2 separate regions of the Homo sapiens genome follow, and region 2 is linked to region 1. The links come from fine-mapping of genetic effects on gene expression. Tissue or cell type: skeletal muscle. Region 1 holds a variant in brackets; the other region holds the start of a gene. All regions are shown on one strand. Distances are between the middles of the regions.

What was found. PIP is the estimated chance that this variant, and not a neighbour inherited with it, causes the effect.
Region 2: GPLD1 starts here. The variant in region 1 is fine-mapped to the expression of GPLD1 in skeletal muscle (GTEx, PIP 0.97).

What each region holds. Positions count from the first base shown.
Region 1 is chr6:24,435,246-24,440,998 of GRCh38, reverse strand. It overlaps GPLD1 (glycosylphosphatidylinositol specific phospholipase D1), which reads left to right. Exons shown (of 25, transcript NM_001503.4): 21 at 3,710-3,886; 22 at 4,263-4,423. Among named protein-coding and RNA genes, the nearest start is that of MRS2, 35 kb to the right of the region's middle. The variant G/T (reference allele first, on the strand shown) is at 3,075.
Region 2 is chr6:24,486,261-24,492,013 of GRCh38, reverse strand. GPLD1 (glycosylphosphatidylinositol specific phospholipase D1) reads left to right here and starts at 2,436. Exons shown (of 25, transcript NM_001503.4): 1 at 2,436-2,599. The coding sequence starts at 2,503.

The DNA of each region.
Region 1 (5,753 bases):
GCTTGAACATCCGTGGATTTTGGTATCTGTGAGAGGCCCTGGAACCAATCCTTCGTGGATACTGAGGGATGGCTGTATTGTTTATAGTAGTAAAAAGCTAGAAATAGCCTAAATGTGAAAAGAATCAGATTTAAAATTTTATAATCCACAAAATCTCCATTTTGTTTAAAATGTGTGTTTATAGATATCTGCCTACCTACCTACCTATCTCACTTTCCAGAAAGAAATATATATAGTATATACATTTTCTTCTTTATGCTTTTTTTTTTTTTTTTAATAGTTGGAGTCTTGCTATGTTGCCGAGGCTGGCCATGAACTTCTGGGCTCAAGTGATCCTCCCATCTCAGGTTCACAAGTAGCCGGGACCACAGGCATGTGCCACAACACCTGGATTATGCTTCTTTTTTTTTTTTTTTTGAGTATTTTTTACACTTTTGATAATGATCAAATATAAAAGATCTTCTTGACATCTTCATAGTTTTGACTTTTGCAGTAATCCTGAAAGCTGGTGACATTAAGTAACTTACAGTTGATAATTTTTCTTTTTCTTTTTAAGCCATAGGGTCTTGCTCTGTTGCCCAGGCTGGAGTTCAATGGTGTGATCACAGCTCACTGTTACCTTGAACACCTGAGGTCAAGCGATCCTGCCGCCTCAAGCCTCTTGAGTAGGTCAGACTACAGGCACATGCCACCACACCCTACTTTTTGTAGTGATGGGGTCTCACTGCATTTCCCAGGCTGGTCTTGAACTCATGAGCTGAAGTGATCCTCCTGCCTCAGCCTCCCAAATGCTGGGATTATAGGCATGAGCCATCATGCCTGGCAAGTTTATAGTTTTTCTGAGACACAAATATGAACCACATTACAAGATGATATCCTCTTTCCTGTGGTTTTCAAGAGAGTAGAGTTGGTGAGATGCACCTGTGTTTCACAATAGCTCTTTTGTTTTCTGCTCCCTCCACTGGAAGAAAAGTTCCACATGAGAAGTAAAACACTTGTGTGTGTATTTAAAAAATACCCACCACCCCTGCATCCCAAACACAACCCTAGGGACTAGTGCTCGTGGCAGAAATTAAGGCAATATGGAGGTCTAAAAGATAATGGTCCTTAATCAGAGGGTTTAAGCATTACAGAAGGAATTCTATGTTAACTAGAAGGTATAAGCATTACAGAAGGAATTCTGTGTTATAGTAGCATTCTAGAATTTGGGAATTCATAAAGGCCTCTGCATGTAGCCCTTTTAAAAGCCAAAGTTCTTCAGAATTATTTTCAGTACTGAAATAATATAGAAATGCCTACAACATTACCTTGAGTTTTTTCTCCTTGTCTAAATGTGTATGATAATCCATTGTTTAATTTGCATGATTGAGAAGGTGAGGTGTTTTGAATGGCTGAAATTTCCAAGTGTCTAGATTCTTCTGTTTTAATTCTGAAGAATTAAAAAAACACTTTGATGAAATTATTTTAAATTATATGCTTCTCTTCTTTAACAGACTGTGATGCGTGTTAGAGATTTGGGAGTATTGATTAATTACAATTCTTCCTCATCCTTGTGCATTTCAAATCATTTCTGAAATAGATTCATGAATCATTCAGAGGGATATCAAAATATGTACTTTTGAAGAGCTGACATAGTTGGATTAGAGAACACAGTCTCAATGGGCAGCCCTATTCAGGCTTTCTAATTCTTGCTCCGAAAGCTAGACCTTGGGGTGACTTCTCTGAGATTCTCCCACATGCACTGGGGCCAGTGTTCATCCTGTGGGCGGCAGAGCCAGAGGGAGAAGCCTCAGGTATCCTCTTGCCATGGAAGGACTGAAGCAGGGAGTAGACAGAGAGCTGGAAGTGTTACTGGATTCCTGGGCGCTCCAGGGAGCTCATGGTTCCTTTAGGAGGCACGAAAAGAAAGGGAATGTGGCTGGGCTTGGTGGCTTGCACCTGTAATCCCAGCACTTTTGGGAGACTGAGGCAGGCAGATCACGAGGTCAGGAGATCAAGACCATCCTGGCTAACACGGTGAAACCCTGTCTCTACTAAAAATACAAAAAATTAGGCGTGGTGGCGCGTGCCTGTAGTCCCAGCTACTCGGGAGGCTGAGGCAGGAGAATCGCTTGAACCCAGGAAGCGGAGGTTGCAGTGAGCCGAGATCACGCCGCTGTACTCCAGCCTGGGTGACAGAGTGAGACTCCATCTCAATAATAAAAAAAGAAAAAGGAATGAAGATTTTCTCTTATTTCAACTTTTCTTGATATTTTGGGCTTTCACTCTGAATATTAACTGTTGTGCTGGCACATTGTTCTCTTAGGAGACATTGTGTTAGGTCATGTTGTTTGCCCTGTATCAGAAAGCTCCAGATTGCTGAGCTTTTAAAATACTCTTTCTTATTTCCTACTGTTTTCTAGCTGTTATATCTGACTGTTGTTGCCGACTCTGCTTTGAGCCCTCAGTGGCTTCTAGTGGACAGTTTCCCATAAACAAGGCACAAGTTTGTCCGAAAAAACAGGTCAGATTAGCTCAGTTTTACACACAAAACTCAGTGGACGCTGACGTGAGATTGTATCCACGCACTGACACTTTGCCAGCATACGGCAAACTTCTCAGAGGGCCACTAGCCCCATCAACCCACAGGTGCCATTTATATTTCTGAAATCAAAGCTGTGTTCCAAATAATAAAGTTTACAGCGAAATTCCAACAACTAGCTTTGAGTTTGTTCAAAATTCATTAATTCAAAAAACACTTTATTGAATACTTGTACAGAACCAAGCACCATGCTAGGTACAGTGGATAGAGAGACAGAGACGTGACCGCATTTCTTGTGGAATGGGCGCCTGATGCAGGAGACACAGAAGTGAATGCAGAGCGATGCTGCCCTGCCGTGGGTATTCAGAAGGCACTGGGCACAGCTCATGTCCCCTGTAAAATGCTTACCTGAACTCAGAGGTCCTGGGGTCAGGACACAATCACTTGCCCATGTTTTGTGGGCCCCAGCTGTCTGCAGTTCTTGCAGTTCTGTAGCGTTTGTGCCCAGAGCTAAAGTCCCACTGGACTCGGTGTTATTATGTATGGGAGCACA[G/T]GGAAGCGGCCTCTTCTCTAGACCAGCGAGATTAGGAAAGGCTTCCCAGAGGAGGGGACACCTGAGCCAAATTCTGCAGGGTGACAGGAGTAGCCAGCAGAGGGATGTGGACAGGGGAGCACGCGGAGCATATGCCTCTATTCCAGGCAGAGAGCACATCATGTCCAAAGGCCCAAATTTAAGACATAGATTGGGCTGTGGTTTAAGTTCATTTTGGTGAAGTGTGGGTGAAAAGGTTAATGGCGCTAGATCCCCAAGTGGGAGTCAGATTCTGTAAGGCCTTGTGAAGAGTTTGGACTCCATCCAGAGTCCACTTGCGTTTGGATGTGTCAGTCATGGGGGTGACCTAGTTTGTGATACGAGAAAATAAAAAGGTGGCTGTGTGGAGACTGTATTATGGGGATAAGACTGGAAAAAAGAATACCTGCCTGGAGGGAAATCACTGAAGCTCTCTGGTGTTTGTGCCTTGGTGCCCAAGCTGGTTGTACCTCCCTGACTGCCGGAGATGACCAGCTCCGAAACCGACTGTCCTGTAGGATCCCGAGTGATCAGTGTCACTTGAGGATGGGGTGCTATTCCGTGTTCTGTAATGCCTTCCTTTCTGTGAGGCCAGCAGGAACTGTGGTTCGTTTCAGATGACGTGTCTAAGGTGGCATTCCTGACCGTGACCCTACACCAAGGCGGAGCCACTCGCATGTACGCACTCACATCTGACGCGCAGCCTCTGCTGCTCAGCACCTTCAGCGGAGACCGCCGCTTCTCCCGATTTGGTGGCGTTCTGCACTTGAGTGACCTGGATGATGATGGCTTAGGTAAGAAAGGAACAGGACCCTTTGACAAGAATTGAGTCCCTTTGCCCAGGGGGTGGGTCCCCTAATTGGGTCATCTGGGCTCTGCCCTTATAATTGACAGCCCAGTGGCCCAAGGACCTTTAGACAGATCTTGAATGAGGCAAGACCAGAGAGGGAGTTGCACTTCTTGAAGCTGGTAATATGAGAATCACCTGTAGTAATTGCTATTGATGAATGAAGTAGGAAACAAAAGCCTTTGCCAGGATGAAATCACAGCCGACTAAAGGAGATACTAATATTATTTGTAAGAGGTTGGGTTAGGATCCAGTAGCGGAACAAGGAAAAGATGACAGTGAGGAGTCAAATACTTCCTTCTGTCGGTTTTTATTGTTTTCAGATGAAATCATCATGGCAGCCCCCCTGAGGATAGCAGATGTAACCTCTGGACTGATTGGGGGAGAAGACGGCCGAGTATATGTATATAATGGCAAAGAGACCACCCTTGGTGACATGACTGGCAAATGCAAATCATGGATAACTCCATGTCCAGAAGAAAAGGTAAGTGTTCTACAAAATTCTATAACTTATTGGGAAAGGATCACTAATTGCTGATTCCTTGTTAACTCATGTCCACTATAAAGTGCTTACCTGAATTCATACCTCCTAGGGTCAGGACACCATCATCTGTCCATGTTTTGTGGGCCCCAGCTGCCTGCAGTTCTTACAGTTCTGCAACATTTGTGCCCAGAGCTAAAGTCCCACTGGACTTGGTGTTATGTAGGTCCCTGGTCACACAGCCTGCCACTGCTTGGTTAGGCACCCACAGCACAGAAGAAAGAAAACAGGCCATGGCCATTGGAGTTTCTCTTTTTAAAATAGAGACGGGTTCCTGTTCCATTGCCCAGGCTGGAGTGCAGTGGTGTGATCATGGCCCACTGCAGCCTCAAACTCCTGGGCTCAGGTGATTCTCTTGTCTCAGCCTCCCGAGTAGCTAGGACTACAGGCATGTGCCACCACACCCGGCTAATCTTTTTATTATTTGTAGAGATGGGGCCTCACTATGTTGCCCAGGCTGGTATTGAACTCTTGGGCTCAAGCAGTTCTTCTACCTGGCCTCACAAAGTGCTGGGATTACAGGCATGAGCCACCATGCTCGGCCAGCCACTGGAGTTTCATTAAAACGTCCTCTCTTTTGCTTTTTGTTTCATTTCTTTGTTTATTCCTTTTTTGGGTGAGTTTCCTTAAGTTACATTTCCTGGGCCTAAAGCATTTGGCCATTATTTAACTTTTTTTTTTTTTTTTTTTTTTTGAGACAGCGTCTGGCTCTATTGCCCAGGCTGGAGTGCAGTGGCACGGTCTCGGCTCACTGCAACCTCCTCCTCCCAGGTTCAAGCCATTTTCCTGCTTCAGCCTCCCGAATAGCTGGGACTACAGGCATGCACCACCACGCCTGGCTAATTTTTTGTATTTTTAGTAGAGACAGGGTTTCACCATGTCGGCCAGGCTGGGATTACAGCCCAAAGTGCTGGGATAACAGGCATGAGCCACCGTACCCCACCTATTTTAAAAAATTTAAAATTATTTTTTAAATTGCAAAATTAGTGAAAGTTTATTATGGAAATTTTAGAAAATACAAAAATGTACAAAGAGAATTAAAAATTATCTACCTAAAATTCCACTCTGCAGAGCTAATACCTGCTTACCTTTAGAGCGGATCCTGCTAGTATTTTTCCTATGAATTTAATTACTACCATTTATTGTGCATTTAGTATGCATATGCTAAGAACTATGTATCATTTAATCCCCATAAAAGCTATGAAATTGGCCGGGCGCAGTGGCTCACGCCTGTAATCCCAGCACTTTGGGAGGCTGAGGCGGGCGGATCACA
Region 2 (5,753 bases), 51 kb before region 1:
AGAAAAATATTTCCATATGCTTATTATTTGTCAGATAGTAATATTGTGAGCTACGTTTTAACTTTCTTTAAAGTCATATCTTTGATGTTTTTATTGTTACCAAAGTAATACAAACTTCATAAAACTGCAAGCAATATTGTCATATAAAGACCATATTCATAACTATCACACTAAGCAAATAATTTCCTCTTATTTTATTACATTTATACGTTTATGTCATTCTGAATCTCAAATACAAAAAAATGCATAATGAGAAATTGAGACATTTGGGATTAGTATTGTTTGGTAACTGAACCCATTCCTTTTTTTTTTTTGAGGTGGGGTCTTGCCCAGGCTGGAGTGCAGTGGTGTGATCTCAGCTCACTGCAACCTTCACTTCCCAGGTACAGGCGATGTTCCCGCCTCAGCCTCCTGAGTAGCTTGGACCATAAGTGCATGCCACCATGCCCGGCTAATTTTTGTTTTTGTTTTTTTCTTGGTAGAGACGGGATTTTGCCATGTTGCACAGGCTGGTTTTGAACTCCTGGCCTCAAGCCATCTGCCCGCCTTGGCCTCCTAAAGTGCTGGGATTATAGGCGTGAGCCACCACACCTGTTCTGAACCCATTTCTTTGGTGCTTTTTGGATGGGTTTGTTGTATTATATATGGTTAGATATCTTTTCTAGCAGTATTTTTTTCCCCTGTAACCATTGATTGACTGCTCTTGGATGTTCTGAGAGACAATATCCAAAGTCCCAATTAATAATTGTGACTCCCTCACGCACAGTCTGTAGAAGGCCCAGAGTGACAGGGAGGCAAACTCAAAGGCCTCTGGTGGCCAGAAGGGGTGTGGAAACCTGCACACATTGCATGGATGGTGGGGACTGGAGGAGCAGGACATGCTCTATCAGGGGGCAGCTGGCTCTTTGGCTGCAGCTGGTTGTCGTGTCACATGGGAGCGTCAGTTCATGATGCCAGTTCTTTTGTTTTTAAGAGAGCCAGAAATCTAGATTTCTACGTGAATTTTCTCATTTAGAAAAAGTTCATAAACTTGATTTAAGTTTATAAAACATCCTGTTAGCCAAACAAAACACGTAGGCATATGGCCTCTGGACTAATCAGGAGTAGCTGGGCCTACTGCCCCTCAGGTCTGGGGGTAGCTGCGGGATTTCTTTCCTTGGGGCTGTGCACATGGCTGTGTTAAGCTTACAGGGGAAACTGTTGGGGCGACAACTGTTGTCAAATCATTCCACTTTCTTTTTTTCTTTTCTTTTTTTTTTTTTGAGACAGGGTCTTGCTCTGTCACCCAGGCTAGAGTGCAGTGGTGCAATCTCGGCTCACCGCAATCTCCACCTCCTGGGTTCAAGAGATCCTCCCACCTCAGCCTCCCCAGTAGCTGGGACTACAGTCACGTGCCACCACACCTGGCTAATTTTTGTATTTTTAGTAGAGACGGGGTCTTCACTATGTTGATCACGCTGGTCTCAAACTCCTGACCTCAGGTGATCCACCAGCCTCAGCCTCCCAGAGTGCTGGGATTACAGGTGTGGGCCGCCACGCCCAGCCAAATCATCCCACTTTCTATTCATCCTTTCATTTGGCAAACCTGAAGTGAATACTATTTCCTCCCACTCTTTTAGGAGCCCATCTCTTGCTTTTAATGTAAAATATGCATAATTTGTGTTTTAAGATTACCATCAGTTTCATGAAGAGCTTAATTTTTCCCATGGATGAAGTGTAAGTGGGTACCTGATAATATATCGTGAGCTTAACATTTTCCAAACCCTGTTTCTTGGCCCTAAATCTGCCCCCTTCCTTCCACCTCCCAAGTGGAATTGACATCTTTGCTTCAGCTGCAGGAATCTGACCTTGCAACAGGCTCTGGATAAGCCCTATTAGAACAGCCAGAGGTAGAGAGACCAGGAGTGGCTGCTCTTGTGTAATCCCATACAAGTGTCAGTATCTGTTGCCAAATACTGAAAAGGAAGCCAGTTCCAGCTGATTACCATAAAACTTTCCCAGCACTTGTGGCTTGGGAGGCGGAGGAAGCAGGACAGCCTGATAAATGTGTAGAAAGGATGCATGAGAGATCCACCCTTGTAAGGTGAGGTGGTCTAATATGTTGACTATCTGCACAGGTGAGCCTTTTTATAGAAAGCAAAAAATATCTGGAGACAACTTTGCTTGCATCTCTACACAAATTTCATGTTAAAATGAAATCCAGAAAAAACCTCGGTCAGAAGATGCAGTGCTTCTGGCCTAAGGCTTTTCAGATTTCAGTTTATCCTCCCAACCCCACCCCCCAGGAGCACAGAGTTTGTTTGCTGTTCTGGTGAAGCTAAACAGTAGTTGGACAGTTGACTTCATTGGAAAACGATATTATTTTGAAATGAGGCTTGGTTTCCTCGGTCAGTGACCTGCTTAGAGAGAAGCGGTGGGTCTGCACCTGGATTTTGGAGTCCCAGTGCTGCTGCAGCTCTGAGCATTCCCACGTCACCAGAGAAGCCGGTGGGCAATGAGATCATGTCTGCTTTCAGGTTGTGGCCTGGCCTGCTGATCATGTTGGGTTCTCTCTGCCATAGAGGTTCACCGTGTGGCCTTTCAACACACGTAGAAATAGGTAAGTACTGGTGTCTTGTTATGTTGTTGAGAGGACAATACATCTGTCAAAGACATTAAGGAAGAGACTGAAAATCCCGCTCGTGGATTGATACAGTTTCCCCTGGGCACTGAGCTGAGTGGCCTGACAGCAGGGAGGAGAAGCCGGTGATTGCAGTCATCCAGGGATAGGGATTGGCAGCATGACTTCAGTTAAGGGGCAAATAAGAAAGAGAGCTGATGCCCCATTGGTCATGGGACCCCTGTGTGTTTCTCTGGGTGGGGAAATAGTGAGAGGCTCAGTGAACGAGAGGTTGCAACGTGGCAGCAGAACTGACAGAATGGGAGAGGAACAAGATGGGTGGAATATGGCAGGAGTGAGAAATGTACTTTTGTTGTTTTTACATGTCCAAGGACAGGCATTTCCAAGTATATGTAAAGAGCCATATGTGGCCATGGGAGTGGGTCCCTGAGTCAAATTGCTGTAAAAGTGCTTGGCTTCAGGAAGGTCAAGAAAGTAAGGGAGTTTAGTTATCCACATGCACGGTGCCAGGAAGATGGCAGGAGTTGGAGAGCAGAAGGGTACAGCAAGCCAGTGCCACCGACCTTAGGGGCAAGGGCAGAGTCATCCTGGATATAGGGAGATGGCACCACAAAGAGTTATTTAAAATTTTTATTTTTCTAGCTTTATTGATGTATAATTGACAAAAATTGTATAAATTTAAGATATACAACATGATGTGTTGATATATGTATGCCTTGTGAAATGATTAGCACAATCAAGCTAATTAACACATCCGCCCCCCCCACATAGCTACCATGTTTTTTGCATATGGGCTGAGAACACTTAAGATCTTTCTTAGCAAAAGGATTTGGTTCTTGTATGAAGTGTATTTGTAACATGTTTTAACGCATGGAAAACGTGAGTCAATTTGTAATAGAATTAGCTGTGATAACATTCTACAGCAATTTTCAGATTAATTTCAGATATACCTGATGTTCTGAGTTTTCTTTTTTTTTTTTTTGAGACGGAGTCTCGCTCTGTCCGCCATGCTGGAGTGCAGTGGCGCAATCTCGGCTCACTGCAAGCTCCGCCTCCTGGGTTCACACCATTCTCCTGCCTCAACCTCCCGAGTAGCTGGGACTACAGGTGCCCGCCACCACGCCTGGCTAATTTTTTTGTATTTTTTTTTAGTAGAGATGGGGTTTCACCATGTTAGCCAGGATGATCTCGATCTCCTGACCTTGCGATCCGCCTGCCTCGGCCTCCCAAAGTGCTGGGATTACAGGCGTGAGCCATCGCGCCTGGCCTGAGTTTTCTTTAATTTAGATAAAAATTATAACAGAATTTTATAGTTGTACCACCTCCAGAAGTTTCAAAGAATAATAAGATTATAGGCAAAAAATGAAAATTTATCAGTGCAAAATAGACATATATACTGAGCTACGATGGGCAAGAACCTGTTATCACAGAATTTGACTATCTGAAAGGACACTAGAAGTCACCGAGTCCAGTTCTCTTCTTTTACAGATGAAGAAACTGATACTAGACAGTTTTACAGCTAAGTTTTCAGTGGCCTGGCCTAGAATTACATGTCCTGACAGCTGGTCCGGCGTTCTTTCCATTAAAAATGTACTGCTAGAAGGGAGTCAGGAAACAATGGAAAAGAGGATCAGACTTAGGTTCTAGTTCCAGCCATCCAGTAAAGTAGATGTGTGATTCTGAGCAATTCACTTTTTACCTACCTCTCAATTCTATAAAATGAGGGGGTTGAACTTCTTAAAGAATTCTAAAGTGTCTTGCAGTTCTATGTTCTGTGAAGTTGAAATTGCCAAAACTACAGAGTAAGCTGATGAGGAACAAATATAAATGGAAATACTCCATTTTTAATCCTTAGTGTTTAAAAATTTACAAGACAGATTGCATCTGAAATTTTAATAAAACCAGATAATTGCTTGCCCTTCTTCATTAAGTACCAAACAAAGGTCCTAATGGACATTTAAAGAATAATATTTATGTGAACATAATTGAAGGCATCTCCTGAAATAGAATCTGCACGGATTCTGAGAATTTTTTTACATAGAAGAAGACCAAAACTCCATCATTTATTTACTAATAAATTAGATGATTTTATAAATATTTTGGTTCACTTTTTCATTTCTTATAAAGGGGCCTGAGTGGAAGGTCAGCATTATCTGAGTGAGTTAATTAGAAATGGCTTCATTCAGCGTAAATCACTGGAATCCTGTACACAGGTTATTTGTATTTGTGGGTTGTGACTTTTATGATATTAATGCTTATAGTAGTGGCAATAGTTTTTTGTTATATGAATTTTAAAAATTGGAGGTGATTCACAACAGAAATAAGGTATCACCTTTGAATGTCACTTCCCAGGGAATGTTAGTCCTCTTATTGATTCTTGGGAGATTCAGGCTGTGGGTGGGTGTGGGGTGTAGTTGGTAGCTTTCTGAGATGATTTTGTCCTTCTGGTCCAATGATGAAAAACTTTTGAGGATCATTGGTTCAGTCCATAGGTTAGGTGTTATATTGTATTTTGTACTTAGGTTTGTCTGCCTCAGTACTGAAGCAAAATATGATGACAGTTTCTTTTTTTTTTTGAGACAGAGCCTCGCTCTGTTGCCCAGGCTGGAGTGCAGTGGCGTGGTCTCGGCTCACTACAACCTCTGCCTCCTGGGTTCAAGTGATTCCCCTGCCTCAGCCTCCCAAGTAGCTGGGATTACAGGCATGCGCCACCATGCCTGGCTAATTTTTTGTATTTTTAGTAGAGACGGGGTTTCTCCATGTTGATCAGGCTGGTCTTGAATTCCTGACCTCAGGTGATCCGCCCTCCTCGGCCTCCCAAAGTTCTTGGATTACAGGTGTGAGCCACCATGTGTGGTCTGGCAGTTTCTTTTTCTTGAGCTCCTACCAAGTGTCAGCCACTGTGCTTGTCACTTAGCATTTATTATTTCAACCAACCTATACGGTGGGTATTTTTTAAACTCTTTTCCATAGGAGGGAACTGAGGTCTAGAGAGGTTGAATAGCACTAAAGCTCATAGAGTTATTTAATAGTTAAGCAGAAACTTTAAATCACCATCTAAACTTGCTTTGTACTATAACAATAGAAATACTGCACAAGCCTATACCTAATGAAAATTGCCAGTGAGTGCAAA